Homo sapiens: one gene and its partners. The protein of the gene in region 7 purifies or fractionates together with the protein of the main gene of each other region. This does not show direct contact. Each region holds a gene or a part of one and is shown on either strand. Other genes may lie near its edges.

Evidence for each region.
Region 1: the proteins of HTN3 (region 7) and FLG purify together in Homo sapiens (affinity purification with mass spectrometry, with the first as the bait; one study listed by BioGRID). This does not show direct contact.
Region 2: the proteins of HTN3 (region 7) and PIK3AP1 purify together in Homo sapiens (affinity purification with mass spectrometry, with the first as the bait; one study listed by BioGRID). This does not show direct contact.
Region 3: the proteins of HTN3 (region 7) and HRNR purify together in Homo sapiens (affinity purification with mass spectrometry, with the first as the bait; one study listed by BioGRID). This does not show direct contact.
Region 4: the proteins of HTN3 (region 7) and AMY1A purify together in Homo sapiens (affinity purification with mass spectrometry, with the first as the bait; one study listed by BioGRID). This does not show direct contact.
Region 5: the proteins of HTN3 (region 7) and PRB2 purify together in Homo sapiens (affinity purification with mass spectrometry, with the first as the bait; one study listed by BioGRID). This does not show direct contact.
Region 6: the proteins of HTN3 (region 7) and BPIFB1 purify together in Homo sapiens (affinity purification with mass spectrometry, with the first as the bait; one study listed by BioGRID). This does not show direct contact.

What each region holds. Positions count from the first base shown.
Region 1 is NC_000001.11:152,318,740-152,322,239, reverse strand, and holds part of FLG (filaggrin), read left to right. Parts: intron 1-3,500.
Region 2 is NC_000010.11:96,647,515-96,651,014, forward strand, and holds part of PIK3AP1 (phosphoinositide 3-kinase adapter protein 1), read right to left. Parts: intron 1,342-3,500; coding exon 1,145-1,341; intron 1-1,144. UniProt on the Homo sapiens protein: Signaling adapter that contributes to B-cell development by linking B-cell receptor (BCR) signaling to the phosphoinositide 3-kinase (PI3K)-Akt signaling pathway.
Region 3 is NC_000001.11:152,214,194-152,217,693, forward strand, and holds part of HRNR (hornerin), read right to left. Parts: coding exon 1-3,500. UniProt on the Homo sapiens protein: Component of the epidermal cornified cell envelopes.
Region 4 is NC_000001.11:103,658,760-103,661,906, forward strand, and holds part of AMY1A (alpha-amylase 1A precursor), read left to right. Parts: intron 1-650; coding exon 651-784; intron 785-1,600; coding exon 1,601-1,723; intron 1,724-1,817; coding exon 1,818-1,917; intron 1,918-3,147. UniProt on the Homo sapiens protein: Calcium-binding enzyme that initiates starch digestion in the oral cavity.
Region 5 is NC_000012.12:11,392,768-11,396,997, reverse strand, and holds the start of PRB2 (basic salivary proline-rich protein 2 preproprotein), read left to right. Parts: upstream 1-1,430; 5' UTR 1,431-1,468; coding exon 1,469-1,532; intron 1,533-2,467; coding exon 2,468-2,503; intron 2,504-3,020; coding exon 3,021-4,171; 3' UTR 4,172-4,204; intron 4,205-4,230.
Region 6 is NC_000020.11:33,293,214-33,296,713, forward strand, and holds part of BPIFB1 (BPI fold-containing family B member 1 precursor), read left to right. Parts: intron 1-3,500. UniProt on the Homo sapiens protein: May play a role in innate immunity in mouth, nose and lungs. Binds bacterial lipopolysaccharide (LPS) and modulates the cellular responses to LPS.
Region 7 is NC_000004.12:70,031,459-70,034,248, forward strand, and holds part of HTN3 (histatin-3 precursor), read left to right. Parts: intron 1-520; coding exon 521-541; intron 542-619; coding exon 620-649; intron 650-1,708; coding exon 1,709-1,762; 3' UTR 1,763-1,795; intron 1,796-2,790.

The DNA of each region.
Region 1 (3,500 bases), on a different chromosome or scaffold from region 7:
AGGATGATACTATACATAGTATATATCAATAGGATGATGCAGGCATACTAGTTTCATTCCCAAACTTGGAGATGAAAGCTTTCATTTCACCATTAAATATAATTTTTGCTATGACATTTTTCAAAGACATAATCTTTTATTTATTAATCAGAATTAATATTGGATTTTATCAATTTTTCATCTATTGAGAGGTTCATATAATTTTCCCCATTATTCTATTTCAGTACTTAATTGGTTGGTTTTCAAATGTTAATCCAAAAATGAATTTTGGAATAAAATGTAGTTAGGAATAACATATATTCTTTTTATATACTACTGAATTCAGTCTGCTATTATATTCTTTCAGAGTTTTGCATCTATATGAAAGGAATTGTCCTGAAAATTTTGATTCTTATATCGTTGTCAGGTTATGGTACTGAGGCCAGTTTGGATTAATAAAATGGGTGTTTCCTGTTTTTCATTTCTCTGAAATAATCTATGTGATGTTATAGTTATTTCTTTCTTTCACTTTGAATAGAATTCAGTAAAGCCATCTGACCTGCAGTTTCTCCCCCACTGGAAATGAATGCATTTAAGATTCAATTTCTTTAATAAACATAGTACTATTTAGGTTTTCTATTTATTGTTGGTTCAGTTTTGGTAACAAGTGTTTTTCTAGACATTTCTTCTATGTCATCTAAATTTTCAAATTAGCTGGTATAATGTTTTTTATAATATGCTCTTGTCATCTTTCTAATGTCTAAAACCTCGATAGCAATGTCCCCTTTTACTTTCCTGATATTGGTACTTACTCTTCTTTCCTTGATTAATCTTGCAGGGGTTATCAGTTTTATTAGATTTTTCAAAGGCTGAATCTTGGCACTGTTGGTTCTCTAAATTTTCTTTCTCTTTTATTAATTTTAGTTATCTTTATTATTTCCTTCATTATACTTTCTTAGGGCTTAATTTGTTCTTTTTAAAACTTCTTGAAATATATGCTTAGGTAATTAATTTTTCAGTCTTTCATATACATATATATACACACACAACTGTATGCTGCTTATAAGATTCACACATAAAAAATGATAACAGTGATTGAAAATGAAAGGATGGGAAAAAGAGATATCATTCATATATATATGTATGTGTTTATATACATATATATGTGAGTGTATATATGTATATATGTGTGTGTGTATATATATATAGGCTATAAATATCTATTAGGCATGGAATTAATGTATTCCACAAGTTATGCTATTTCATATTTTTCTCATTTTCATTTAGTTCAAAATATTTTCTAATTTTGCATTGTAATTTATTCAATGACCCATTGATTATTTAGAAGTCATTAATTTTCAAACACTTAAAGATTTTTCTAGTTATCTTCCTATTATTTAATGCTTGCTTCATTCCACTGTGTTAGAGAACAAACTCTATGATTTCAACCCTTTAAAATTTATTGAAACTTGCTTTATGGCCCAGTATATGGTCAATTTCAAAAGAATGGATATTCTGCAGTTGTTAGGTGTAGTGTTCAATGTATGTTGATGTTTTATTAATAATTTTGTAGAAATATTCTACATTCTTACATATTTTTTACTTCTTCTATCAGTTGCTGAGAGAAGTGTATTTAAATACCCCACTATGATTGTAGATTGCCTGGTCCTCCTTATACTTCTGTCGATTTTTATTTATGTATTTTGAGGCTTCCTGGAGAATTGATCTTTTATTATTATAAAATTTCCTTCTAGCAATATTTTTTGCCTTAAAGTCTGCTTGACAGATATGAATATAATAATAACAGCTTTCTTTTAGTGTTTGAATGGTATCTCTTTCTTCCACCCTTTCATTTACAATCATTTTAATCACATTTTATGTGTGTCTCTTATAAGCAGAATACAGTTGGTTTTTTTTAATCCAGTCTGACAGCCTTGTCCCTTAATTAGCATATTTACTCTATTTATATTCAGAGTTATTATGGAACTATTTGGTTTACATCTCTACAATATTACTACTTGGTTTCTACTATCTCACCTGTTCTGTATTTCTTTTTCTATTCTTGACTTTTTTGGATTAAGTTAATATTTACCAGTTAATTATCTTTATACAAAAGCTTATTAATTATACACTCTTTTATTATTATCTGCATCCTTGCCCTAAAAATTATAGCATGCATCCTTGATTTGTTAGGGTATATTATTAAGAAAAAAATACTTTAACCCCTACCCAAATAATACAAGTATCCTACAATACTTAACTCCATTTTCTCACTGCCTTATCTGGGATTGTTATGTATTTTAATTCTATTTATCTTAAATCCTGAAAGATTACTATTATTATTTTATGCAATCAATATCTAGCTATATTTTTCCACACATATGCTCTTTCCATTGTTCTTATTCTTTCTTGCTCCTCTGTGCTTCCAACTAGAATTATCCTTTAATATTTCCTTTACAGTAGGTCTCTGGTGATTAGCTCTGTTTTTCTTTGCTTGAAAATATCTTTACATGTTTTCTTTTTGGTGGATATTTTCACTGTTAACATATAACTTATTTTGCTTCAGAAAGATGAATATAACATTTCATCGTCTTTTAGCTTCCATTGTTTCTTTTGAAAAGACAAGTATCAATCTTATTGTCGCTCCTTTGAAGGTAATACAAGTGTTTCTCTGTCTGCTCTTAGGATTTCCTCATTGCCTCAAATGTTCAGCAGTTTTATTATTATATGTCTTGCTTTGGTTTTCTTTTATATCTCCTGCTTGGAGTTTATAATATCGTTTTGAACCTGTACCTTGATATCTTTCATCAGTTTTAGAAAATTTTGTCTTTTAATTCCCCAAATACTATATTTCCCTCTAAATCTGAATGTAAGCCCCAATAAATTGTCACAATCTTGATAGCTCTGTGATACCTTCAAACACACACACACACACACACACACACACACACATTTTCTAGTTGTATTCAGAGTTAGTCTGAAACTAATAAACAATTGCACAAAGCAATCTTTAAAAATCAAACCATATTAGATCACTCTCTTACCAAAAAATATCATCTAGTCTCATCACACCTAAAATAAAATGCACAAATGTCACCTTATTTAGAAGATCATTATCTGACCCGTCTGTATCTCTGACTTTATGTTGTATTACTCCTGCTTTGTCCACAATTTTCTAACTGAGTTGGTCTTTTTCTATATCTCTAACATGACAAGCTGATTTTCATCTTGGAATCTTTGCACTGTTCCTTGTGCTAAAATTCTCTAATTAACAAGGCTACTTCCTTCTTATTTTTCCATTTTAAGTTCAAATGTCCCCTCTACCACAAAACCTCCTTTCCTTAAAGTACCCCCAAATATTCTGTATAATAGCACTCTTATTTTAGTTATGTACATATCACTTATCAATATCTAATTGTTGAATTAATTTATTGTTTGTTTATTGTCTTCACAAAAGTAGGCAGGCACCTCATCTATCTTGTTCACTACTATATCTCCAAAGCATGAAACAGTGCCTAACC
Region 2 (3,500 bases), on a different chromosome or scaffold from region 7:
TAAGAAAAAACTGAGTAAATACACCCAGACTGAGAGCACCTTTTAGACTTATTTGTGTCAGTGACGCCCAAAAAAAAGGACTCACACCATTTTATTCAAAACACTTATACACCTGTAAACACTGGGAAGTCCCCTCTGTGCCTCCGTGAATCACTGTCTTGTAGATTTTCCAACACAGAGCAGAGAGTTAAGTTTCTGGGGAGATATCAGGCTCTGTCCTGTCTGGAGGTCGAGAGCAAGACCGGGCTGTGTTTATTGCTCCCTGTGAGGTCACAGCCCCATGCGAGAGGCTGAGCTATTCTCAGGTACCCTCTGGGAGTCTGTGAAGAAGGAGGAAAACCACGAGGGACTGGGATCAGGAAGAGCAGCTGCTTCCTAGGCATCAGAGGCAATATTGGGGCATGGAATAAGATGTAGACGTGGGGTGCGATCAGCCTCAAAGAAGGACCCAGAAGTCAATGTTTGAGGAGGAGCTGAGGGCCCCAAACCAGATGATCAGATAAACTGGGCATACCTGCCTGTCTTAACATGGGACCCAGGCAGGGGGTTAGAAAGAGAGAGCGAGGCTGTCAGCAGGAGGTGGGCCTTAGAGTTGCTGCCCTGATGCCTTTCCAGGTGCACAGCTTTATTGAGGTTTCTGCTGAAGAAGAAACCAAGCCTAATACAGTTCACCGGGGCCTGAAGGCGGGTGAGGCAGCTAGGAGCATCCCACCATGGTGCCCTGGAGGCAGGTGAGGAGGTGGGGGGAGATGATCAGCCTCTACCTTCAGCAGATTCACTCTATAAAGGTTTCTGTAAATTCTGTGAGGGTGAACCTCAGTGCTTAATAGAAATGATTTCCTTTTACCTTCAAAAGAACTCTATGACTCAAACTATGATTATCTTCCTTCTGCATATTAGGAAACTGAGAGAGGATACGTGACTTACCCAACGTCACAAGGCTAACAAGTGTTGGTACAGGAATTTGGACCCAGGTCCATGTGACTCCAGACCTCATTTCTTAAGCCCACACATACTGCCCATGGCCAGAAGAGGTACATGAGGACATGCTAGAGATAAAATCTGTTCGTATTTTGGGTGAAAGGGCAGCCATACTACCACAGAGTGCATTTCCAATCCTGGGCCCCTCCTGCCTTGACCTTACCACATACTCGTCGATGAACTGCCGCAGGTCCCTGAAGCCGTGTTTCTCAGCGATGGTGTTGGGGTAGTGGCCATGCTTGTTGGCCACGCTGTACGCCTGCAGGGCTCCTGGGCAGGTGAGCAACAAGGCAGTGAGGTTCTTCAGTCCATACTTCGCAGCAAAATGCAACAGGGTGGGCAGCTCTTCATCCCTCTGATCTGAAAATTATCAAGGAAAACTTAATAGGCAGATAAAAATAAAGGCACAGGGTGCCCTTGTTCATGGAGATGAAGCTGCCAAGACTAGCATGGCAACAGAAAGCACTCAGCCATTACTTATTGATTGACTGACCTAACATCTAACAGCTTCCTTCAGGACACCACTGAAGATCATGTCCTCAGATGCAGAGGACATAATTTTTTTTGTTGAGATGGAGTCTCACTCTGTCACCCAGGCTGGAGTGCAGTGGCGCGATCTTGGCTCACTGCAACCTCTGCCTCCCAGTTTCAAGTGATTCTCTCGCCTCAGCCTCTCAAATAGCTAGGATTACAGCTGTGCATCACGCCCAGCTAATTTTTGTATTTTGAGTAGAGATGGGGCTTCACCATGTTATCCAGGCTGGTCTCATACTCCTGACCTCAAGTGATCCACCTGCCTCGGCCTCCCAAAGTGCTGGGATTACAGGCATGAGCCACCATACCCGGCCATAACATTTTAATTAATTAGCAAATCTAATAATGAATACCCTACCATCTTCTCTAACAGGACTGGAGAATCCTGAGAAAAAGTACCAGTTCAAAATGTGCCGGGTTTGTTTAAAGGCTTAACTAGCAGCCACACAGTACAATAGGAATCATGTTTTGAACTTCTCTGCAAAGTTCAGAGCATGTATTTCTTAAAGCTATTGTTTCGTGCTGATTAAAAGAAAGCAGTTCATCCTCTTAGCCCTTATTCCTAATTTCATGATAAGTACACCAAGTAATCCTGGGTATGTTCCTTAGACTTTCCGCTGCCTTTAGTTCTCAACCAGAAAATACTTCCAGACTATCTCAAAAGGACCTGGGAGGATAAGTAAGATAGTATTCAGCAGGGTTCCTATTTAGGAGAGATTTTGAATGTTGGTCTTAATGCACACAAGCCCCACCAGGACGTCAGTTCACTCTCTAATTGGTGAAAAGCAAAGTACTCCAGAGAGGTGCTGGGTCCCCACGGACCCCCTCCACCTACTGACATCTGAATACAGCAAGTTAAACTCAACCAAGAAAATGGACATGTTTGTGTTTGCGGAGCTGGGGACAAATCTCTTTTTTCATAAACGTTTATTTTTAAGCCCAACAACTTTATAGACATACATTTATATACAAATGTATATTTTTTAACATGACAAACCCAGCCTTCTATTCCAAATATGACCTTGGAATGAAGGGTCTGAAAATATTCCCAGGATCTCAAATTGTCAGGCTATGAAATACTTTCTTCTAAGCCCCAAACTTAATAGAGAATAGTCACATCTACAAAAGTGCTGCAAGAACATTCCATAGTAGGAAAATGGGGAGAGGCAATACGAAAGAGAGTCCCCCAGGAGAAGGCCTCGAAAGTCATGTAAACTCACCCTTATGGTTCTCTTAGACTACAGAAGGATGGAACGTAGGCAGAAGGTAACCAGAGACTTGGGTCCCATTTGTGTAGTGCAACCATGGCATGAAGGAACGGTGGTGTCCACAGAAACACTACAATAGGCATCCTGTCCAGAACACCAAGCATCATCCCCGTGCAAGGGGTGTGACTCTCTCAGCTCCCAGCATGTCACATGTGCACAAGAGGCTGCTCCTCCCTCATTAAACAACTACTTGTTTAGAGCCTACAAAGAGCCAGCCACCCAGGAGCAGTTCCAGCCCTCACTGAGCGGACAGCCTAGCAAAGAAGACAGACACAGCTGAGGAGTGCTAGGTCAATGGCACCCAACATGCTGGTGGTCGGGGGGTGCCAAAGCAGGTGAATGGAACCTACTGGAGGTTTGGAGAAGGTCTTCTAGGGAAGTGCTACCTAAGCTGCTACAGGGAAGTGAGAGAAGTTAGCCAGGTAAACAGCAACCAAGGCAGGAAGGAAGGACTATCTTTCCATGAGTCTAAGTGGCAAGAGACAGGTGAAAAAAGCTCATACCTCCTGCAGATCAAAGCATAGAAAAGACAAGAGGGAGTGTGGAGAGAGATGAGGGCTTGTTCACAGGTTAAGCAGTTTGGATTTTATCTAGAAGGCAACTGGGAACCTCCCCTGACAGTACTTAGCTTACCTGTTCCTCATGCTATCCCTATGAGGAATAATCATAACAAGCTCCATTGGCTTACGCCAAACCAATTTAAAATCACTCATTTCC
Region 3 (3,500 bases), on a different chromosome or scaffold from region 7:
TAGATCCATGTTGACCGTAGCCAGAGGACTGTCCTGAGCGAGACTCTCGGTGACCTAAGCCAGAAGAGTGACCGGAGCCAGACTCATATGGGCCACGGCTGGAAGACCACCCTGAGCCAGACCCATATGGGCTGTAGCTGGAAGACTGCCCAGAACCAGACCCATGTCGGCCACGGCTAGGGCTAGGAGACTGGCCAGATCCAGACCCATGTTGGCCGTGGCCCAAAGACTGACGGGAGCCAGACCCATGCTGACCATAGCTGGAAGATGAACCTGAGCTAGATCCGTGTCGTTCACCCCTAGATGACTGTCCTGACCTAGAGCCGTGTTGTTCGTAGCTGGAGGAGTGACCTGAGCCAGATCCATGCTGAGTGTAACCAGAGGACTGCCATGAGCTAGACTCGTGGTGACCAAATCCAGAAGACTGACCTGAGCCAGACCCATGTCGGCCACTGCTGGAAGACCAACCGGAGCCAGACCCATGTTGGCCGTAGCTGGAAGAGTGCCCGGAACCGGACCCATGTCGGCCGCGACTAGGAGACTGGCCAGATCCAGAGCCCTGTTGGCCATAGCTAGAAGACTGACTTGAGCCAGAGCCATGCTGACCGTGGCTGGAAGACTGACCTGTGCTAGATCCCTCCTGGTCAAAGGTTGATGACTGTCCTGATGTAGAACCATGCTGTCCTTGGCTACAGAAGTGCCCTGAGCCACTACCATGCTGACTGTAAGCAGAGGAATGTCCTGAGCCAGACTCATGTTGACCAAAGACAGAAGAGTGACCCGAGCGAGACTCATATGGGCCACGGCTGGAAGAACGACCTGAGCCAGACCCATGTTGGCCGTGGCTGGAGGAGTGCCCCGAACCGGACCCATGTCGGCCGCGGCTAGGGGAATGGCCAGATCCAGACCCTTGTCGGCCGTGGCCCGAAGACTGACGGGAGCCAGACCCATGCTGACCATAGCGGGAAGACGAACCTGAGCTAGATCCGTGTCGTTCACCCCTAGATGACTGTCCTGATCTAGAGCCGTGTTGTCCGTAGCCAGAGGAGTGACCTGAGCCAGACCCATGCTGACTGTAACTAGAGGACTGCCCTGAGCTAGACTCGTGGTGACCAAAGCCAGAAGACTCGCCTAAGCCAGGCCCATGTTGGCCACTGCTGGAAGACCGACCGGAGCCAGACCCATGTCGGCCATAGCTGGGAGACTGCCTTGACCCAGACCCACGCTGGCCGTGGCCTGGAGACTGGCCAGATCCAGAGCCCTGTCGGCCATAGCCAGAAGACTGACTTGAGCCAGAGCCATGCTGACCGTGGCTGGAAGACTGACCTGAGCTAGCTCCATGTTGGCCACAGCTCGATGACTGTCCTGATGCAGAACCATGTTGCCCATGGGTAGAGGAATGACCTGAGCTAGATCCATGTTGACCGTAGCCAGAGGACTGTCCTGAGCGAGACTCTCGGTGACCTAAGCCAGAAGAGTGACCGGAGCCAGACTCATATGGGCCACGGCTGGAAGACCACCCTGAGCCAGACCCATATGGGCCGTAGCTGGAAGACTGCCCAGAACCAGACCCATGTCGGCCACGGCTAGGGCTAGGAGACTGGCCAGATCCAGACCCATGTTGGCCGTGGCCCAAAGACTGACGGGAGCCAGACCCATGCTGACCATAGCTGGAAGATGAACCTGAGCTAGATCCGTGTTGTTCACCCCTAGATGACTGTCCTGACCTAGAGCCGTGTTGTTCGTAGCTGGAGGAGTGACCTGAGCCAGATCCATGCTGAGTGTAACCAGAGGACTGCCATGAGCTAGACTCATGGTGACCAAATCCAGAAGACTGACCTGAGCCAGACCCATGTCGGCCACTGCTGGAAGACCAACCGGAGCCAGACCCATGTTGGCCGTAGCTGGAAGAGTGCCCGGAACCGGACCCATGTCGGCCGCGACTAGGAGACTGGCCAGATCCAGAGCCCTGTTGGCCATAGCTAGAAGACTGACTTGAGCCAGAGCCATGCTGACCGTGGCTGGAAGACTGACCTGTGCTAGATCCCTCCTGGTCAAAGGTTGATGACTGTCCTGATGTAGAACCATGCTGTCCTTGGCTACAGAAGTGCCCTGAGCCACTACCATGCTGACTGTAAGCAGAGGAATGTCCTGAGCCAGACTCATGTTGACCAAAGACAGAAGAGTGACCCGAGCGAGACTCATATGGGCCACGGCTGGAAGAACGACCTGAGCCAGACCCATGTTGGCCGTGGCTGGAGGAGTGCCCCAAACCGGACCCATGTCGGCCGCGGCTAGGGGACTGGCCAGATCCAGACCCTTGTCGGCCGTGGCCCGAAGACTGACGGGAGCCAGACCCATGCTGACCATAGCGGGAAGACGAACGTGAGCTAGATCCGTGTCGTTCACCCCTAGATGACTGTCCTGATCTAGAGCCGTGTTGTCCGTAGCCAGAGGAGTGACCTGAGCCAGACCCATGCTGACTGTAACTAGAGGACTGCCCTGAGCTAGACTCGTGGTGACCAAAGCCAGAAGACTCGCCTAAGCCAGACCCATGTTGGCCACTGCTGGAAGACCGACCGGAGCCAGACCCATGTCGGCCGTAGCTGGGAGACTGCCTTGACCCAGACCCACGCTGGCCGTGGCCTGGAGACTGGCCAGATCCAGAGCCCTGTCGGCCATAGCCAGAAGACTGACTTGAGCCAGAGCCATGCTGACCGTGGCTGGAAGACTGACCTGAGCTAGCTCCATGTTGGCCACAGCTCGATGACTGTCCTGATGTAGAACCATGTTGCCCATGGGTAGAGGAATGACCTGAGCTAGATCCATGTTGACCGTAGCCAGAGGACTGTCCTGAGCGAGACTCTCGGTGACCTAAGCCAGAAGAGTGACTGGAGCCAGACTCATATGGGCCACGGCTGGAAGACCACCCTGAGCCAGACCCATATGGGCTGTAGCTGGAAGACTGCCCAGAACCAGACCCATGTCGGCCACGGCTAGGGCTAGGAGACTGGCCAGATCCAGACCCATGTTGGCCGTGGCCCAAAGACTGACGGGAGCCAGACCCATGCTGACCATAGCTGGAAGATGAACCTGAGCTAGATCCGTGTCGTTCACCCCTAGATGACTGTCCTGACCTAGAGCCGTGTTGTTCGTAGCTGGAGGAGTGACCTGAGCCAGATCCATGCTGAGTGCAACCAGAGGACTGCCATGAGCTAGACTCGTGGTGACCAAATCCAGAAGACTGACCTGAGCCAGACCCATGTCGGCCACTGCTGGAAGACCAACCGGAGCCAGACCCATGTTGGCCGTAGCTGGAAGAGTGCCCAGAACCGGACCCATGTCGGCCGCGACTAGGAGACTGGCCAGATCCAGCCCCATGTCGGCCATAGCCAGAAGACTGACTGGAGCCAGAGCCACGGTGGCCATAGCTGGAAGACTGGCCTGTGCTAGATCCCTCCTGGTCAAAGGTTGATGACTGTCCTGATGTAGAACCATGC
Region 4 (3,147 bases), on a different chromosome or scaffold from region 7:
TAAAGACTGAGTCATTTCCTTAAAACAGTGTTCTTTAACCTCCTCTTCTTCACATACAGCATATCTAATTCTTTATCACAACAGGTTTTATGGAGGTACACAGAATGTAGGATACTGATAATAGTTATGTCTTTATTTTCTTTGGAAAATGAAATGAGTTAATATTTATCAAAAAAAGTCAGTCAGATAGTAAATATCGTATTCCTGTGAGCTGTTATTATTATCATTGATGTACAAGACTAAAAATTAGGTAAGTATTCTCACAGGACAACAGGTAACTTTGACATTATGTTTCTTTCAATATTGTAGTGTATACTTTATCAAAAAAAGAATATAAGAATATTACCGATGAAGATAATAAGAATAAGAAAACGATTTTGAGCGTTTCATATAACAAATAGGACCAGGCGTGGTGGCTCTTGCATGTAACTCAGCACTTTGGGAGGCTGAGGCAGGAGAATTCCTTGAGGCCTGGAGTTTGGGACCATCCTGGACGATATAGCAAGACCCTGTCTCTAAAGAACAAAGCACAACAAGTCTAAAATAACTCAGAAATAGCTGAAAGCTAATTTTTATATAATATAAACTTATCGGTTAAAATGCTTTAAAGTCCTTATGCAAAATGTTTTTTTTTCCTAAATTTCTTCTAGGTAATTGATCTGGGTGGTGAGCCAATTAAAAGCAGTGACTACTTTGGTAATGGCCGGGTGACAGAATTCAAGTATGGTGCAAAACTCGGCACAGTTATTCGCAAGTGGAATGGAGAGAAGATGTCTTACTTAAAGTAAATAAATACAACTTTTCCCCTGAACTATTTCATAGATCTGTTAGTCATACTACCCCAGTGCGAGTTATCTTCTGGAACATTCTTATTCAGACAACTATTAAGGAGTCAGTTGTTAATGATAAGTATTCTAGTGCCCTAAACTCTAATCAATCATCTTTTGTATTTAGAGTGTCTGTCACAAGACAGTATGCCTAGGAACGCTAAACTTACCCTAGGAGTTTCTGTCTGCGTACAAGATGAATATACTGGATTTGACTGATGTTTGCATATAATCTTTTAAAGCCAGGTTATTATTAAAATGATCCTATCATTTATAAAGTATGTACAAAGTGTCCATGCTATTGTATTTACTTATACGAATTGGAAATGTAAAATGATTTATATTATAACAATACAATATTAAAGCCTTATTTTAATCTAGTTTGACATTCTGTATAATGTGATGTGGATATTGATCCTTCTGGAGTGCCTCTAAATGATAATGTGCTGAAACCTCTGAAAGGAAATTTTTTAATAACAAACATTTTATATTTGTAATATGAATATAAGTATTCCATACATGTATATACAAATATGGACTATATATATGTAGATTACACACGTGTGTTTGTTTATGAGGTGTGTGTGTATATATATGTGAGTGTGTGTTTGTGTGTGTGTGTGTATATATATATATCTTACAGAGTAACCATCTAATTAGAGAAAGAATTTAATCTTCAGATGCCATGCCTTACAGAAAGAGATGCACAGTAGAGTTACTCTCAAACTATTGTGAAATGATACATCAACGTATATCTTATGTTTCAAAAATAGGAACTGGGGAGAAGGTTGGGGTTTCATGCCTTCTGACAGAGCGCTTGTCTTTGTGGATAACCATGACAATCAACGAGGACATGGCGCTGGAGGAGCCTCTATACTTACCTTCTGGGATGCTAGGTAAAAAACCAAGTTCTCTATTTTTTTAACACCTCTTTTAATGATGGTATGAATATTGTGATATTCTATGATAATATAATTATGTAACTTTCAGGCTGTACAAAATGGCAGTTGGATTTATGCTTGCTCATCCTTATGGATTTACACGAGTAATGTCAAGCTACCGTTGGCCAAGATATTTTGAAAATGGAAAAGTAAGTTTTGGAGTTGTTCAAAATATCCTTTTCTCAAGAAAAAAGAGGCAATCTTCTCCTAATTTAATATGACAACTATTAAGTGTTTATTTATTCAACAAATATTTAATTATTGTAAACCTGATACAGGATTGTGATTTAGTAATGCAGGTTATATTAAAGGAATAAACTTTATATTCTCCATTGAAAAAGAATAGCAAGCTTTTTCAGAGATATGACAAACATCCCCCTAGCCCGCAGGGAAAATAAAAATAAAAATTAAAAAAACCACTTAAAAATAAGAGCTAGGCACAGGGATTAAAATATATACTTCGTACCTTCCTCAGGTTTAATTGGAAGAATATAGATGCCAACCCTTGTAGAGAACTTAAAACATCATCTGCCCGTAGTGAGAACAATATAAATGTCTTTTAAATACTGTTAAAAAGTTATATGGAATAGAAACAAATGATCCAGTTCAGCTGAGTTAAATAGGGAAAGTATACTATAAGAGGAAGGAAATTGTATGTACTAAAGGATAGAAATTTATAGAGAGTATTCCAAGAAAGGTAAGAATGAGAAAAATATTTGGGAGTATGGTAAAGACATCACTCTGCTGAGTAGTTTCAAAAAGGAACAGAGAAATAAGAGTGTAAAGATATTTGGAAAGCTAGTAGAAGGTTTTCTTTTAAACTAAAGGGTTGAGAAACAGCATCAGAGACTTCAGAACTAAAGCAGAAATTCCTCCTTCCTATGAGTCACACAGATATCTAGCTAGCTTTTTTTAGATTCCTTTCAGTTTGAGAAGTCCGCTACTATGTATAACAACTGATTCTATTGTTAAACAGCTTTAATATTTAGAAGGTGTACTTTTATATTGAGACAACTTCTTATAATTTCTACTAATTGGTCTTATTTCTGTTGTTAGGAGTCAGAGAGTTCTTTTATTTTTTCTATTACTATAACATTCCCACTTTGACAGGACTGCTGCATGCTATAAACTCTTAAGTTTTGTTCACTTTTCACCATATGACGTGATTTTAAGGTGAACACTGATAAACTTCCTAGGGTTACTCTGTGTTTTTTAATGAAGATTTCTTAAAGTGCCAATCAGAAAAGCATAATACTAAAAATATGGTCAATTTATAAAAAAAAAATGTTCAGATGTAGTATTTTGTACATTTATCTAAAAAGAAGCATGACGGCCTCCAATATTTATTTAGCATATGTCATGTTCAAGGCATTTTCACA
Region 5 (4,230 bases), on a different chromosome or scaffold from region 7:
ATGCACAAAATGTGAACAATTACACAAGACACACAGAAGGTCTAAGTGGTAAATGGCAGCTGTTGATACTGACTAACCTGTATATTCCATGAACTGATGAGCAGGGATTTACCAGATATAAGAGAAGAACCAGCAGCTAAAAGAAGTGCTAACAATGCAGGACTCTGAGAGGGCTTTTTGGAAACACAACATTTATTGTGAAATTACACAGACAGGAATGAAAAAAGATGGTGAGGAGTATATATCCTATTACTTAAAAGATTAAATAAAGGAAATCTCACCAAATTCATGGGGAAAAGCCAGCTACATAATAAAAGATACACATAATGAGCTTGACTCAGAAAATAAAATATGTAAAAGAAGTACTAGAAAGAACGTGGGGAGGAATGCATATCAGAATATTGTAGAAAAATACTCGTGGAAGAAGAATCTGAGAAAACAGGTAACACAAATACTGACTAAACCAATAAAACCAATAGAATGCAATTGAGGGTTTGATGGTGGTATCTGATTATCTTATTTGAATGTAGAATTGTGGCCACTTAATTATCAGTGGTAAGAATTCGATATAATTCCTAAAAGAAATGAAGCAGTGGGTGAATTTTATAGAATATTCTAGAGAAAGGGAAGAGCATGAAGGAAATTTTAGCAACATGACATCGCATGGCTCCCTCACAGAACTATGTATTCAGTTTTCTCAGGTCTAGAAATTTCCTGGTGGTTTCTGTGTCCATTTTGCGTTAATAACCTCTAAAATTACTTTAGAATACAAAATTTTAGACTTCCTGTGTTGTACAGGACCAAGCCTTGCCTCAGCTGAGTGAGATCCACAGAAACTTGAACAATAGCCCTATCCTGAGCAGGCTGCGGGGCAGCTTTCTGTCATCTATGTGTGCACAGAAGTGTGCTGTCCTCACACATCTCATAGATAGCAGAAACCATCTCTATCACATCAAAAATTGAGCTAAATATGAAAATATCTGTACACACACATCACAAGAGATGGAAATAGGGCATAATAATATCCAGAGATATTGACCATCTTCACTGCTGGTTGTAGCATCGCTGCTCACACACACATAAACAGAAATAAATAGCACAGTGGAAAGTGGATGATAGTCTTACCTAAAAGATTGAAACTCTAATGATATCTAAAGTTCAGTGATGACACAGTGCTGATGGCTTGGACACAGTTCCTTCAAAACCATTGTTCAAGTCATAGTTGTACCTTTTGGAAATAAGACACTAACAACATATCCTATCCAACTCATCTCTCTGGGCTAGAGTCTCAAAGAAAAATAAAGGAAACACCTGACCTGCAGTGAGCAAAGCAGAAGCCAGTCTCTGAGGTGGTGAGGCCCACCCAGTGTGGAGCTCAAAGGTGCCATTGTTCTTCTCCTCTTTATAAAGGGAGTTGCCACGTTCCTCCCAGCACAGAGTTGGGAGTGACTCCAGAGCCTCCTGCAAGATGCTGTTGATTCTGCTGTCAGTGGCCTTGCTGGCCCTGAGCTCAGCTCAGAACTTAAATGAAGGTAAAACAGAAGGGGGAGAAGATGTGGTGACTCTGCTTGGGGCTTAGGAGGTGATAATGGTAATTACGGGGAAGAGAGGAGAATGAAAACACAGATGGGGCTGCAGAGTTTTCATGCCTAGGATCAGGAGACTTGTTGTGCCCTCATTCCACAATAAGAGTTTCTAATTTATTTAATGTACAATGAAATCCAATAAAGAATTTGTTCCAGGGGAATGAGAAGGTAAGATTTGCATTTATAGATAGAACTGTGCTGTGAAGGATGCAGTAGAGAATGCAAGGCAGATTCATGGAAGTCCAGCTGTGAAGATCCTAAACTGATCTCAGTAAGTACACAGGGATGATGGTGGCCTTGCTGTACAGTGCATCAGCATCGATGACGGCGATAGACACACACAGTATCAGAGATACTGCAGAGACAGAGAATTGGATGGAACACTTGTCTCTGTTTAACTAGAGATACAGAAATATCAGAGCCAATCATTGTCATTTTTCTCTCCCTTACACGCAGTATTTCAATGTGCTGGGAGTGGTATGGGTAAGATTGTATTGAAATGATTACTTCTGGTTACCCCAATTGAGAAAGCATGTGTACATAAGCAATGTATTTATAGGAGATGGAGGGCATAAGAACACCAAAATATCACATTGAAGTACCTGGCATTTGTGAACTAAATTAGCATTAAGTCTTGAGGGATGCTAGGGAGGGAAAAAAGGGGCTCTTCTATGTTGAGTTCATGGCTGTTGCTCTGTCATAACAACCCTGCCTCCCCTTACACCTTCCTCCCCTTCCAGCAGCTTCACAGATGGTGGCTGATGAGTTAACTTAGGGGATGCATGGGGTGTGGTGAGAAGTCTGTTTTCCCTGTAGAACACTTGTGAGTCTTGTAAGGTTCAAGATGTAACTGTTCCCATCATCCTGTGCTTCTCTTCTAGATGTCAGCCAGGAAGAATCTCCCTCCCTAATAGCAGGTAAATCCCGATTCATTCTCAATCTGTTCTGACTGTCTTTTTCTGCTTATGAATGGATCAGTTCTCCAGTGTCTTCTTATCAAAACTTTCCTTTCGGGAATTGATTAATGTTAGTGCTCCTAATAATATAGGCACTCTTCATGCAACCTTGATTCTGGGCATCATGAGCAGGCCACCAAATTGAACGGCAGAGATGCTTGGCTTAGATGACAGCAGGAGTGGGTTACCTCATCCCCCTGGCCAGGAGTGCCTGCTGGGAGATGACAGACAAATGGGCAGCATCCTCATTCTGTCTCCTCTTTATAATGAGAGGCCCTCAACTGCTTTGTTCTTCCCTGGCGCTCCACTCCAGAGTTCTATGTCTTCACTGAAATGCAAAGAAATTAATGTCTTGGTCTCATTTTTGTGTGTTTCCCCACTCAGCTTGTTACCCAAACTGATAAAAATTTACTGCAACTATTCAGGGAATCTTGTATGGGCTTTTACTCTGTCTTTCTCTTCTCTCTTTGTTCTCCAGGAAATCCACAAGGAGCACCCCCACAAGGAGGCAACAAACCTCAAGGTCCCCCATCTCCTCCAGGAAAGCCACAAGGACCACCCCCACAAGGAGGCAACCAGCCTCAAGGTCCCCCACCTCCTCCAGGAAAGCCACAAGGACCACCCCCACAAGGAGGCAACAAACCTCAAGGTCCCCCACCTCCAGGAAAGCCACAAGGACCACCCCCACAAGGAGACAAGTCCCGAAGTCCCCGATCTCCTCCAGGAAAGCCACAAGGACCACCCCCACAAGGAGGCAACCAGCCTCAAGGTCCTCCACCTCCTCCAGGAAAGCCACAAGGACCACCCCCACAAGGAGGCAACAAACCTCAAGGTCCCCCACCTCCAGGAAAGCCACAAGGACCACCCCCACAAGGAGACAACAAGTCCCGAAGTTCTCGATCTCCTCCAGGAAAGCCACAAGGACCACCCCCACAAGGAGGCAACCAGCCCCAAGGTCCCCCACCTCCTCCAGGAAAGCCACAAGGACCACCCCCACAAGGAGGCAACAAACCTCAAGGTCCCCCACCTCCAGGAAAGCCACAAGGACCACCCCCACAAGGAGACAACAAGTCCCAAAGTGCCCGATCTCCTCCAGGAAAGCCACAAGGACCACCCCCACAAGGAGGCAACCAGCCCCAAGGTCCCCCACCTCCTCCAGGAAAGCCACAAGGACCACCCCCACAAGGAGGCAACAAACCTCAAGGTCCCCCACCTCCAGGAAAGCCACAAGGACCACCCCCACAAGGAGGCAGCAAGTCCCGAAGTTCTCGATCTCCTCCAGGAAAGCCACAAGGACCACCCCCACAAGGAGGCAACCAGCCTCAAGGTCCCCCACCTCCTCCAGGAAAGCCACAAGGACCACCCCCACAAGGAGGCAACAAACCTCAAGGTCCCCCACCTCCAGGAAAGCCACAAGGACCACCCCCACAAGGAGGCAGCAAGTCCCGAAGTGCCCGATCTCCTCCAGGAAAGCCACAAGGACCACCCCAACAAGAAGGCAACAATCCTCAAGGTCCCCCACCTCCAGCAGGAGGCAATCCCCAGCAGCCTCAGGCACCTCCTGCTGGACAGCCCCAGGGACCACCACGCCCTCCTCAAGGGGGCAGACCTTCCAGACCTCCCCAGTGACAGCCTCCCCAGTCATCTAGGATTCAATGACAGGTATGATTCCAGTTTATTCTTCACCA
Region 6 (3,500 bases), on a different chromosome or scaffold from region 7:
TGCCTGGCGACTTTTTTCTTTGAAAAGATGATGTAATAAATGAAAAAATTTGGGGAAAAAAAATCCATAATCCTTTTACTTTCACCCAGGAGCGCTTTGATCTTTTGCAGATTGCCTTCCCACCTCCATCCACATGCACTAGTATTTTTAAGAGGCTGCTCTTGGTGTCAGCCTTTAAATCAGATCTATGTTTCAAAGTCATTATACAATACTTGTAATTATTAAATAGGTACATTGGGTTTAATAATTTACGAAAACATTCCAGCAAATCCTTTTTTAAATAATGTGATTTTATTAAGAGTACTTTAAAATGACAGTAGCAATATTTAAAACAGTATTTTAGGCCAGGGCCAGTGGCTCACACCTGTAATCTCAGCACTTTGGCAGGTCGAGGCGGGAGGATCACTTGAGCCCAGGATTTGCGACTTGCCTGGAAAACACAGAGAAACCCATCTCTACAGAAAAATAAAAAATTAGAATAGCTGGGCATGATGGTGTGCCCCTATGGTCCCAGCTACTCAGGTGGCTGAGGCAGAAGGATCGCTTGAGTCTAGGATGTTGAGGCTGCAGTGAGTCACAGTTGTGCCACTGCACTCCAGCCTAGGCATGACGGCAAGACTCTGTCTCAAAAACTAAATAAATAAATAACACTGCTTTATATAAACAATGTGATTCTTATTAAGAGTACTTTAAAACAATGGAGATTTTTATTTTTCTCCAAGTTGGCTTCCATGTCCTTACCTTCAAGAAAAATACAGTAAAACATTTAATCTCCATTTTGTGAAATATACATCAACTGTACAATATACTATTACGTTTGTTTCTCTAATAAGCTGGAGTTATGATTTTCAACTTCTGCTTCTGCACTAGTAAAGCTTAAGAGTAGCATGTATAGTCAAAGGAAGATCCATTATTTTAATAGTCGAAATATCTACATATTAAAGAGGCCAGGGAAAAATAAGTGAATAATCAAAAACTAAATAAAGCTCAAATAAGATCTTAAAAGGTTAATTTCAGAAGCAATACTGATTCAGCCCAATTCAAGCTACCTTTCTCCAGTACTTTTTTGGAAGAGAATGGGGAGAGACAGAGAGAGATGAGAAGGGAGGGAACCAATATAATGAATTAATGAATTGTGTGATATAATGAATATAATGAACAATGAATATAATGAATTGTGTGATCTCAAAGTTCAAGACAATGGCTTCTTATAGGTAGAATGTTGAGACTCCGACCTTTTAGCAAAGGTACGTATCCAGGGAGTTTTTTAAAGGGAATCCAAAAGTGAAAAACTTCATAACATTGGAATTTTCTTATGTAAGAAAGAAAATTTTGTTTCTTTGAATAATTTTATTTATCTGTTTCAAGGTGGGAATTTCATAAAGTAGGACCCAGCTGTAGATTTTCTTCCCAGCCTCCAGCAAAATCATATTTTATCTGGCATCACACTTTAATAGTTAAAAATATATTTTCCAGTAGAAAAGATGACAAAAACTTGGAATTATACAATGCTCCTTGCATAGTATCTGTCTTTAATGGTGAAAAGCTAAGTAGAAAGAACAATGTGTGAAAGCCGGCATCCCATTATCATCAGCAAATCCACTACATTCACTGGATTTGATATGATGGTCATAGAAATATTTTATTTGGCATGAAGGGAAAAGGCATAGCACGTTTAAGAGGTGAGCGTCTGGTAGGAGCTCATTTAGAAAATGTTGAGGCCAGGCGCAGTGGCCCACATCTGTAATCCCAGCACTTCGGGAGGCCAAGGCAGGAGGATCCCCTGAGATCAGGAGCTTGAGACCAGGCTGGCCAACATGACGAAACCCCGTCTCTACTAAAAATACAAAAATTAGCTGGGCGCAGTGGCGCACACCTGTAATCCTAACTACTTGGGAGGCTGAGGCAGAAGAATCACTTGAACCCAAGAGGCGGAGGTTGCAGTGAGCTGAGATAACGCCACTGCACTCCAGCCTGGGCGACAGAGAGAAACTCTATCTCAAAAAAAAAAAAATTAAAAATAAATAAATAAATAAAATGGGGATGATGGAATGACTTGCTTTATATAATTGTGAGTATTCCATAAGATGCATGGAAAAAAATCTAGCTAGGCTGGTCGTGGCGGCTCACTCCTATAATCCCAGCACTTTGGGAGGCCAAGGCAGGAGGATCCCCTGAGATCAGGAGCTTGAGACCAGCCTGGCCAACATGGTGAAATCCCATCTCTACTAAAAATACAAAAATTAGCCAGACATGGTGGTGGGCGCCTGTAATCCCAGTTACTCGGGAGGATGAGGCAGGAGAATCAGAGAGGATGAGGCAGGAGAATTGCTTGAACCTGGGAGGTGGAGGTTGCAGTGAGCCGAGATTGCACCACTGCACTCCAGCCTGGGTGACAGAGTGAGACTCGAAAGAAGAAAGAAAGAGAGAAGAAGAAAGAAAGAAAGAGAGAAAGAAAGAAAGAAAGAGAGAAAAAAAGGGAGAAAAGGAAGCAAGGAAGGAAAAAGAGAGAGAGGGAAGGAAGGAAGGAGAGAGAGAGAGAAAGAGAGAGAGAAGAAAGGAAGGAAAGAAGGAAGGAAGGAAGGGGAAGGGAAGGAAGGAAAGAAGGAAGGAAGGAAGGGGAAGGGGAAGGGAAGGAAGGAAAGAAGGAAGGAAGGGGATTGGGAAGGGAAGGAAGGAAAGAAGGAAGGAAGGAAGGGGAAGGGAAAGGGAAGGAAGGAAGGACGGAAAAAGAGAGAGAGGGAGGGAGGGAAGAAAGGAAGGAAGGGAGGGAGGGAGGGAGGGAGGGAAAATGTTGAAATCTTTTTCAGTGTAAATCCATGGGTCTCAACCCTCGTTGCACATCAGAGCCATCAGAACCTGAGAAACCTTTAAAAAATACTAATGGCTAGGCCCTACCCCAGATTCAGAAGTAACTGGTCTGGGTGGGTCCTAGTATCCCAGAGGACTCTACTGTGTAGCCAGGATTGAGACCTGCTGATAGAAATGAAGGATGGGGAATTGTGGGATAAAATGCAGAGGTTCCCCGGGACACTTTCCGGTGAGAAACAGGCTCCCCTGGCAGTGCCTGCTGGGAGTCTCTGAGCTGAAAGTCTTCCATCCTCTCTGGGCTCTAGATTGGCAATGCAGCCAGGAGCAGGGAACGGTTATTCATAGGAGTTAACATTTCTCAAAGGCATTGTCATTCCTCAAGAGTATTAAGGGGTGGTCAACAAGACAAAAATGTCCTCAATAATCTTGGAGCACTGCCCTGAAAAGTGAGTCAAATGTTTGACCTTCTCCCTAAGCAGAACAGCTCAGGTCAGGGTTAGGTTAGGTCAGAGTTTCTCAGCCTTGGTGGTACTGACATTTTGGGCTGGATAATTCTTTGTCTGGATGCTGTCCTATGCACAGTAGGATGTTTAGCTGCATCCCTGGCCTCTACCCACTAGTTGTCATCCCCTCCAAGTTGTGACAACTAAAAATGTCTCTAGAAATTTCCAAATGTCTCCTTGGGGACA
Region 7 (2,790 bases):
CAACCTATCCACTAAATTCAAATGAATGTTTCAAAAACAAAATTGGTTATGGCATCACAGTTTATCACATGATTTTATTATAGAAGGATAGAAGTAGAAAAATAAACATATAAGAAGAACAGAGAAAAGCACAATGCCTGTCTCTATCAGCAAATAAAATATTTGTATGTTGGTAGCTTTTGAGCTACATAGAACATATTCATATAAAAAACAATCCAATGTTTCATTTTTCAGTTTCCACTCTCTTATTCACCAATGATAGACTTTTCTTGCCTTTCATAAAAAAGATATATAAACCAAAATGAGTTGATACTTTAATATAGCATATTAATTATAGAGAAGTTTACCCTTCACTCATTTTAAAGATGTCATAAAGCTAAAATAACTAATTTAGCATGTCATCATCCAAAGAATGCCTCCATTCTATTTAATCATAAATGTGGCTAAGTCAATTTTTACACATATTCTTGAATTATGAAATTAAGATATTAATTATTTTCTCATTTTCTTCTTTTCCAAGGGAGCTGATTCACATGCAAAGGTAAGACATTTTCATTTACTGGAAAACTTGATAATTAATCATATATTGAATTTTTAATCTTTTCTTTTTATTTCATAGAGACATCATGGGTATAAAAGAAAATTCCATGTAAGTGTTCTTCTGATAATGTGCACTCTGAATAAGTTTTCTTCTCTGACTATTTATTCTCCTAGAATAATTGATAGTTATCTCTCAAATATATTTATATCATTAATTGCTAAAGTGTACATTGATTTCATTTATTCTTGTTACAGAGGTAAAAGGTCACAAAAATCTTGTGTTCTAACAGCATTTCAACGGAAACTCAATTACACTCTGAATAAGTCAATTTTCAATTATTCTTTGAGAGCTTAAGTATCTTTCTCTTATAAATAATTACATTGACCTAAAGAATAGTTCCTAATTCTATGAATAATTCCTAATTCTATGAAGTATAACATATGCCTAATGAAGCATAGAGGCTACCCATGTAATGTGGTTTCTATCTTATAATATTTGAGGATGATAAAGTCTTTAAATTAAACTTACTGTGCTAAATTAGACAGAAAATTTTATTTAACATTTTTCTAAATGTATGTATAAAAATATCATATTATTTTGACCTCTAATATCAGTATGAATAGGGGTTCAAAAGTTCTGCTTACTAATATAGCAAGTATATGTGTTAAAAAAGCACTAAGTAAAATGATGCATAAAAAGGAATGAGGACTGTTTGTGTTAACAGCAGTGGGTATGAAAGAATGTAGGAGTTGTAAGAGAAAGTAAGCTCATTAAAAGAATAAGATGAAGAAACACCACCTAAGTTGGAAACGGTAACTTTCTCCTCCCCGTTATACTCAATGTTGGGCAAAATAGTAACTTGGAGGTAATGTTGTTAAGAAGATTTAAAACCTGTTTGGAGAGGTTGCCTATAATCAGTGTTCCAACATTTATTATTGCCACAAAAATATCAACACACAGTAAATACTTTATCATTTTTACTTGCTTTTAAACATTTTTCTGAAAGAAGAAAAATGTAACTAAAAATTTGAAAACATTTATGTAGATAACACACGAGGTCATAACAACTTTAACAATCTAAGCTTTCAGTGACAGTTTTTGTGAAGCATTTTTACTGTCATTGCCTCTATTCTCTGCAATTTGCTCTCTCCTTTTGTGTGTATGCAGGAAAAGCATCATTCACATCGAGGCTATAGATCAAATTATCTGTATGACAATTGATATCTTCAGTAATCACGGGGCATGATTATGGAGGTAAGCTGACTCTAGTTACTTTTCTTTCTAGAAGTATCAACACTGACAGTTAAAACAAGGAAAAATTAAAAAAAAGCCATTAAGCCAACAATCATTCCAGTTTAAGAAATGTAGCGTGGGTTAGCTCTTTGAAGTGTGTTGATTTATATAGATGCTTCTGACTTTGTAGATATGTGGTGTTATTTCTGAGGTCTCTGTTCTGTTCCATTGGTCTATATGTCTGTTTTGGTACCGGTACCATGCTGTTTTGGTAACCGTAGCCTTGTAGGGTAGTTTGAAGTCAAGTAGTGTGATGCCTTCAGCTTTGTTCCTTTTGCTTACAATTGTCTTGTGTATATGAGCTCTTCTGTAGATAATTATGAAATTTAAGTACTTATTTCTAATCCTGTGAAAAATGTCAATGGTAGTTTGATGAGAATAGCATTGAATCTATAAATTACTTTGGGCAGTAAGGCCATTTTCATGAAATTGATTCTTCTTATCCATGAGAATGGAATGTTTTTCCATTTGTTTGCATCTTCTCTTATTTCCTTGAGCAGTGATTTTTGGTTCTCCTTGAAGAGGTCCTTCACATCCTTTGTTAGTTGTATTTCTAGGTATTTTATTATCTTTGTTGCAATTGTGAATGGGAGTTCATTCATGATGCAGGTCTCTGCTTGCTATCTGATCTACGACAATCCTGACAAAAACAAGCAATGGGAAAAGGATCTCCTAGTCAATAAATGGTACTGGGAAAACTGGCTAGCCATATACAGAAAACTGAAACTGGACCCCTTCCTTACACCTTATACAAAAATTAACTCAAGATGGATTGAAAATTAAATGAAAAACCCAAAACCAAAAAAAGACCCTAGAAGAAAACCTAGGTGATATCATTCGGGACATAGGCATGGACAAAGACTTCATGAAGAAAATGCCAAAAGCAATGGCAACAAAAGCCAAAATTCACAAATGGGATCTAATTAAACTAAAGAGCTTCTGCACAACAAAAGAAA